Linked DNA regions of Homo sapiens: region 2 is linked to region 1. A link means that fine-mapping ties the variant in region 1 to the expression of a gene that starts in the linked region. Tissue or cell type: whole blood. Region 1 holds a variant in brackets; the other region holds the start of a gene. All regions are shown on one strand. Distances are between the middles of the regions.

Evidence for each region. PIP is the estimated chance that this variant, and not a neighbour inherited with it, causes the effect.
Region 2: it holds the start of CD300E, and the variant in region 1 is fine-mapped to the expression of CD300E in whole blood (TOPMed, PIP above 0.99).

What each region holds. Positions count from the first base shown.
Region 1 is chr17:74,597,551-74,601,713 of GRCh38, forward strand. LOC101928343 (a long non-coding RNA gene) reads left to right here and starts at 2,290. Exons shown (of 4, transcript NR_158152.1): 1 at 2,290-2,398. The variant A/G (reference allele first, on the strand shown) is at 2,141.
Region 2 is chr17:74,621,738-74,625,900 of GRCh38, forward strand. It overlaps CD300E (CD300e molecule), which reads right to left and starts at 2,001. Exons shown (of 4, transcript NM_181449.3): 1 at 1,845-2,001. The coding sequence starts at 1,884. It overlaps LOC101928343 (a long non-coding RNA gene), which reads left to right. Exons shown (of 4, transcript NR_158152.1): 4 at 3,790-4,163.

The DNA.
Region 1 (4,163 bases):
AGGCTTATTCACTATTGCAAGAACAGTATGGAAAACCCCGCACCCATTATTCAATTACCTCCCACTGGGTCCCTCCTGGTGGGGATTATGGGAGCTACAATTCAAATGAGATTTGGGTGGGGACACAGCCAAACCATATCAGCCTGATCTACGGCACAATTTTTTCTCCAGATAGAGGGAATGGGGATCCCTTCAAAAGCTGCTAAGGAGGGTACCAGAAGCCCGCCAAAGGCATGGTCTAAAATGTTCACAGCACACTATGCATCATGGCCCTGAACTTGAAACTAGCTGAATGCCCATAAATAATACATTTGAAAAAATCATAAAAACAACAAGAAAAGTGTTTCAAATTGTGCACTTTAAATATGTGCAGTTTATTTTATCCCAATTATACCTTAATAAAACTGGGAAGGAAGGAAGGAAGGAAGGAAGGAAGGAAGGAAGGAAGGAAGGAAGGAAGGAAAGAAGGAAGAAAGAAAGTCTGTCTATGGTCCCTGAAGTCCTGCCCCCTCCCATGCGTTCTTGGCTCTAGGCAGCAGCACCAGGGCTCACCAAGACACTCCAAAATCCCAAGAGAAGGTGCAGCTTCAAACATAAACAGAAGGCCCGGATCACACCTGTAATCCCAGCACTTTGGGAGGCCAAGGCAGGCAGATCACTTGAGTCCAGGAGTTCAAGACCAGCCTGGCCAACATGGCAAAACCCCGTCTCTACTAAACATACAAAAATTAGTCTGGTGTGGTGGCACATGCCTGTAGTCCCAGCTACTCGGGAGGCTGAGGCAGGAGAATTGCTTGAACCCAGGAGGCGGAAGTTACAGTGAGCCAAGATCACACCACTGCACTCCAGCCTGGGTGATAGAGCAAGACTCTGTCTCAAAAATAAATAAATAAACAAACATAAACAGATATTGCTCAGGGGCCTCCTCCACTTCCTCCCCAAGAACTGACCCACCACGCCCTCCTCTGCTCCCACTGGCAAAGCTTTCTGCTGCTCTGCCTCTAATCCCCCACCCCTGCAAAGCCCTTTGCAGGTGAAGATATGATGGGCTTTGTCTTAGGAAGGCTAAACTGACAGGGGGTTAAGGAGGGAACACAGCAGGGAGTCGGGAAGCCCCAGGGCCATGGACCAGGCACAGTAATAGACCAATCTTAGAGTGAAGAGGACACGGAATTTAATTTTGAGCACATCTGAGCTGTTAACAAAGTGGGTATCTCTATGAAACAACCAATAGGCACTGGAAATGACAGCCAAGCACTGAGGCAGGAAATCAGGTGACAAACTGCTTTTGACAGTCTTGTGCATAGAGGTGACTTTAGAGTGCAGGTGAGGACACTCCCTGGAGAGAAGGGCTCCAGAGGAGAGCATCAGGACAGGCTCCTGCAGATGCAGGGTGGTGGGGGCAGGAATGGATTAGGCAGTGAGAGCAAGGAGGGGCTTCAGCAAAGAAGGAGGAGAGGAAGAGGGAGCAGGTGACAGAGGAGGGAGGGGACCATCTAAAGGAAGAGGGGGGAGTCTGGGAAAGTCACTTTGGGGATCAACAGAGCAAGCAGTTTCGGTGCAGTGAGATTGGCCAAAAGCCAACTGCAGGGAAAATGTGCAGAGATGGGGAGGAAGGAACCAGGGCAAAGTGGGGCTAGAGAAAAAAGGCAACTTCCCCTTCCCCAACTACCTACCACAAGCCTCCAGTTTGGAGTGACTCAGGACCCCAGAGGAAGCTTTCCTAGAGAGGAGCACTGAGTCAGGCTCCAGAAGAGATAACAGCCCAGGGCTGGAAGGGTGGTTTGAGATGCCCTGCCGTGGGGCTGCCTGGAAAGAGCCTGGGGCACAGGCTGTTTCTCCAGCGAGGCTGGATGGGAGCACTGTGCTGTGTTCTTCCCAAAGTGCAAAGCCAGCGCGCCTCGATCAATCCCTTCCCTCCACGCTCTGAGACAAAGCCAGGGCGCCTCCATCAATCCCTTCCCTCTACGCTCTGAGGCAAAGCCAGCGTGCCTCCATCAATCCCTTCCGTCCACGCTCTGAGCCTTACTGTACTCCCTGCCCTGTGTTGTTGGCAGATGCTCCTAAATCACAGACAGCTGCAGATGGAGCCCAGGCCAGGCCTGGACCATTTACTTCCCCAGTTCATTGAAGACGTATC[A/G]TCACACCACACACACTCCAAAAAGACAGCACCACGTTTCTCTTAATTCATGAATTTAGGAAGTAACTAAAGAAAAAAAAAGGAAGCAGTTGAGAAAACAAACAAAAAAAATGATTTAGACAAGTAGGAAGCAGTTTGCCTCTGGGTTCAGTTACAAGTTGCTGGAGGGCAGCTGGTATTAACTCATCACCAGGGAGAGAGCACAGACAGGCAGGGGCATGTAGTGCTCACTGGTCCTGTTCCTTCTCATCCTTCCAGGTAAGTGGGCCTGGGGATTAAGGAACTGGAACCCAAAAGGCTGGGCAGGAAACAGAGAGGGTCTGTGCTGGAGGGAAGGAGACAAGCTGGGGAAAATGCACTCATCCATGCACTTACATATAAGAAAGCAGGAAGGAAGGAAAAGAGAAAAAAAGGGAGGAATGTTTTGTTATCTGACAGTTACTAGGTTAGGTGTTGGGGAAAGAAACAAAAAACATAAATGGTGTCAGGTTTCTAGGATTCTGATTCTTCTCAACCCTGGCAGATGATAGATAGATAGATAGATAGATAGATAGATAGATAGATAGATAGATAATTGATAGACAGACAGATAGATGATAGATGATAGATAGATGATAGATAGATAGATAGATAGATAGATAGATAGATAGATAGATAGATAGATAGATGAGAGAGAAGTAAATGGATGGATGATAGACGAGAGACAGATAGATGCATGGACAGGTGGACAGATAGATGAAAGAACAGATAAATAGGTAGATACATACATACTTATATACTTGCACATATACACATATACCCAAACTTAAATGCATGAATCCCTGAGGAACTTTAAAAGAGCACAAATACTCAGGTTCCAGCTCAGACCCACGCAGTCGTGGCGGGGTTCAGACATCTGGCTAGTTTAGAAGCCTCCACAGCTTGTCATGAGTTGTAGCTAAAATGGAGCAGCTCAGAGTTACAGGGAGGAAGACAGGCAATAAGGCAAGGATGTCATCGCTCTCTGGAATGTAAGTCAACCCCACACATCAGCCTGCTTGAGCTTCTGCTCTGGACGAGCCAAAGACCAGACCATTGTTCAAGGTTGTAAGTACAACAACTGAGACAGATACAAAGTGGTCTGGTGGCACCAGGGCGGGGCTGAACCAACCCTTCAGGGAGGGGAATAAGGGCTTAAGTCCATCAAGCAAGGAAGAGACAACTTCCTGGGCAAAGGGAGCAACTTGTGCAAAGGTATGGAGACAAAAATAGCATGGTGCTTAGGCAAAGAAAAACAACTGTGCACTGAGTGTGTGCACAGGTGTGTGAGTGTTGGGGGTGTGTGTGTGTGTGGGGGTGTGGGTGTGTTTGGTTCCATGAAACTTTATCACATGTGCAGACTCACAGGAGAGGGTTTTTAGGGGTGTGGGGTGCAGTGCCAGTGGGCGGAGGAGTTGGGGGAAGCCAGGATGTCTACCTGTTCAGCTCTGGGATTTTAAAATAAATCGGTGGCTGGCCGGGCGCGGTGGCTCATACCTGTAATCCCAGCACTTTGGGAGGCCGAGGAGGGCAGATCACCTGAGGTCGGGAGTTCAAGATCAGCCTGACCAACATGGAGAAACCCTGTCTCTACTAAAAATACAAAATTAGTCGGGCGTGGTGGCGCATGCCTGTAATCCCAGCTACTCGGGAGGCTGAGGCAGGAGGATTGCTTGAACCCAGAAGGCGGAGGTTGCGGTGAGCCGAGATCGCACCATTGCACTCCAGCCTGGGCAACAAGAGCAAAACTCCGTCTCCAAATAAATACATAAATACATAAATAAATAAAATAAACTGGTGGCTGCAGTGAGAGCCAGGGATTGGTGGGGAAGTGGGTGTCACCTCAGGGCAAAGGAGGGAAGGTTTCCAAAATGAGAGGGTGTTCAGTGGTCGCTAGGATGGCGCATGAACAGACCACTGTGTTGGGCAGTTGGAGCCCTCAGGAGAACTTTGTCAGAGGGGTGACAACAAAAGAAATACTGCCGGGGAATTAAGGAACAAATGG
Region 2 (4,163 bases), 24 kb after region 1:
AGAGCTCTGTGGAGGACACAGATCTGGACTTCATTTCCAGCTTGTCTACTTAGTTCTTATGTCATCAGATCTCCCTTCATCATCTTATTTATAAAGTGGAGTCAATGCTATTTGCCCTGCCTGGGTCACAAAACTGCTCAGAGGGTTAAATTCTATCATCTATTTGGAAGTGTTTATAGGTTATAAAAATGTGTAATAAATAGAATTCTAGTTTTGCTCTTTTTAAATTTTTTACTTTTCTTTTTTTGTAGAAATGGGGTCTTGCTATGTTGCCCAGGCTGATCTCAAACTCCTGGGCTGAAGCATTCCTCCTGCTTTGACCTCCCAAAGCACTGGGATTACAGGTGTGAGCCACCTCACTCAACCAACGTTTGCTTATTTTGTATTTGAATTTGCTTCCTTCCTCTTTGTCATTTCCCCTCCCTGCTAGAATTGCCCTTTCCATCTCTCTTTCCCAGTTAAGATTTTCAGAGGGACCTGCGCAGGTCACATTGCGAGTCTGAGGATGGGGAATGAGATAGGGGTGGAAAGAGAGATGGAAAGGGCAAAGAAAAAGGAAGCAAATTCAAATACAAAATGAGCAAACATTGGTTGAGTGCAGTGGCTCATGCCTGTAATCCCAGTGCTTTGGGAGGTCAAGAGAGGAGGATTGCTTGAGCCCACGAGTTTGGGTCCATGTCACCTACCTGGTCTTCTTCCTTTAAATCGCTGTCATTTTCACTCACCCTTCTAGAAAGAATCTTGTCATTACATTGGGCAATTTCTATGTTTTGTGAGGGAACTCAACCATAAAATTCATTCTGCAAACATGAAGAATGTCCTCTAATTTTTAGCCTAAATTTATTTCCCCAGAGACAAATGTGTTTTCCTGCAGTTTTGTATTTTGAATGTCTATTAATAAGAGTTTCTCTTCTGAAGTCCAACCTTTGCAGGACAGTTTCATTTACTTGTTTACACCACACCTTGTTCCGGGAAGGATTTAAGGTAGATGTTGAGGATGGCATTTTTTTTTTTCAGACAGGATCTCAACTCTATCACCCAGGCCAGACTGCTGCAGTGGTGCAATCTCGGCTCACTGCAACCTCCGCCTCCCAAGTTCAAGCGATCCTCCTGCCTCAGCCTCCCTAGTAGCTGGGACTACAGGCATGCATCACCACGCCCAGCTAATTTTTGTATTTTTAGTAGAGACAGGGTTTCACCATGTTGGCCAGGCTGGTCTCAAACTCCTGACCTCAGGTGATCCACCCACCTTGGCCTCCCAAAGTGATGGGATTACAGGCGTGAGCCACCACGCCCAGCCCATTAATTATTTCTCACAAACCATTCCAACCCCTTTACACTAAGCTTCGTCAAAACAGAACTATTGTTAATTCTTGAACTCTCCATGGTCTTTAATGTCCTCACACTTGCACATAAGCTATTCCTTTCCCACTCAGCCAACTCATTCATCCTGCAGGATGGACTTCCAATGAAGCCTCAGTGACATCTCCCACCCTTCCAAGAGCAAAGTGAGGGGTTCCTGTTGCATACTCTCATCACCACATGAATGAGTCTCTACAACAGTAATTTCCACATTGTATTGTAGTTAGTTGACTCCCTCAGTTCAGAAGTTACTCTTAATTACAGCACCCAGAACAGTCCTGGCACATATCTGGTGCTCAGTAAGTGTTTGTAGGATCCGTGGATGAATGATTGAATGTATAGAAGGATGCACAGGTGAATGAACGGATGTATCTTTCCCTTTTCTGTGGACACTTCACCTCTGGTTTGAACCCAGGACAGCTCTTCTACCTACTGTCCTGCCCCCTGCAAAACCAAGTCCCCAAAGCCACAGCCCCACTCACCTGAGAGGCAGAGAAGGAGTAGAGCTGGGAGCAGCCACATGTTCCTGTCTCCTTGGCTTCCGTCCTCAGCAAATCTAGGTCCCAGCTGGAATCCAAGTATATGTAACGGAGCCTGGGTCATCCACTTTCTACTTGTCCAAGTTTCCTTTGTGTTCTCACTCATCTATTTCCTCTTTTGCCTTTTAAAGAATGCTTCCTAATTTTAAGCCTTACTTAGCAGAAGAGAAAGGGTGGCAAGAGACGTTTCTGAGAATGGACCAAGCACAAACAGGAAAATCTGTTGGCCTTCATTTAATGTGAACGTAATGTTTGAGTCACCCCCTGAGATTTCATGACTCGGAATTTCATGAAAGTCAGTCCCAGTTTACGAAACCTCTCCAACAGAGAAAACTCTGTTCCCTGCCTCTTTCACTCTTCTTCCTATCTGGGATTACTTCATCGATCTAAGGAGCTTCCCTTCTCTATGGCTGCCTACTTTTGAATCATAAAACACCCTCTACTTAAGGAGCTGTGGTGATCACTCCCCATGTCTTTCTCAACCGTTATCTCCATGCGGATGACTTCACACCTCTTCCTCTAACCCAATATCCCAATATCTCTCCTGGGCTCCAGATCCTACTTTCTAACTTCCTATAGGGAAGCTCCACCTGGTTATACACTGTTAACCTAGTTCAGTATATGGGTCATGGTCAACAGCATAGATTCTGAAGTCACACAAACTCAAATCTCATCTCCATCATTTATTAATCATCTGACCTTGGGCATGTTGCCAAATCACTCTCCTCCTCAGTCTCCTCATCTGTAAAATAGAGTACTCATGACAATTCTTTCTCAAAGGGTTGCCACAGGAAATAAATGAGTTAATGTAAGTAAAGTGCTTGATACAGTGCCTGGAACATAGTAACTGCCCAGTTAATATTAAATACCTTTAGAATAGTCCTGGACCATTGAAATAGCTTCTCATCTGGTCCCTCCACTAGCTATACATTCTCTCTAATCCAACTTGCACATCAGAAGATACTCTTCTCTAAGACATAGCTATCTGAAAATATAATTTCTTTCCTTCTCTTTCCCCAGAGATACCCATCTTTGATACCCACAGCCTCTAATCTTTACTATCTTTTAGAACTCTACTGGATCATCTGATATTTCAAACTTTTGTTGTAAGAGCACAACTTCTTATCTTTTCTGTACCACCATATCTGATGAAGTATTATATAGCCAGGCATGGTGGCACGTGCCTGTAATCCCAGCTACTTGGGAGGCCAAGGCAGGAGAATCACTTGAACCCAGGAGGTGGAGGTTGCAAAGCAATGAGCCAAGATCACACCATTGCACTCCAGCCTGGCAACAGAGAGAGACTCCATCTAAAAAAAAAAGAAAGAAAGATGAAAGAAAGAAAGAAAAAGAAAGAAAGAAAGATAGATAGATTATATATAGAATAGAGCCCTGGATGGAACAATAAAACACCAGGACCCTGGTCCCATGTGTGACATGAGCCACACACTTGAGGGATCCAGAATGAGCAGAGCTGACAGTAGCCACAACATTGTGTCTTAGTCCATTTTCTTCTACTATAACAGAATACTACAGGCTAGCTAATTTATAAAGAACAAAAGTTGGCAGGTGCAGTGGCTCATGCCTGTAATCCTAGCACTTTGGGAGGCCGAGGCACGTAGATCACTTGAGGTCAGGAGTTTCAGACCAGCCTGGCCAACATAGCAAAACCCTGTCTCTAACAAAAATACAGAAATTAGCCCTGCATGGTGGTATGAGCCTGTAGTCCCAGCTACTCAGGAGGCTGAGGTGGGAGAATTGCTTGAACCCAGGAGACGAAAGTTGCAGTGAGCCAAGATCACGCCACTGCATTTCAGCCTGGGCGACAGAGAGAAACTCTGTCTCAAATAATAATAATAAAAAAGAACAAATTTGTTCACCTTCCTAGCTTTCTGAAGATGAGAAGTCCAAGAGCATCGTAGTGGCATCTGACAAGCGTCATTCCATGGCAGAAGACAAGACAGCAGGCAAGCCTCCTAGACAGAGAGAAAAAGGGGACTGAACTCAGCCTCTCAGGAAACCACTCTCACAATAACTAACCCACTCCGGAGATAACAGCATTAATCCACTCGGAGGACTGAGCTCTCATGGCCTAATCACCTCTTAAAGACCTCACATCCCAATGCCATTACATTGACAGTTAAGTTTCAACACGAGTTTCTGAGGGAACATTCAAACCATAGCAACCCTTGTGCCATTTATTCAGCAGAGACAACAGTTGCAGGCTTCAGTTCTTTCCACCAAGAGGACCAAACAAATCTT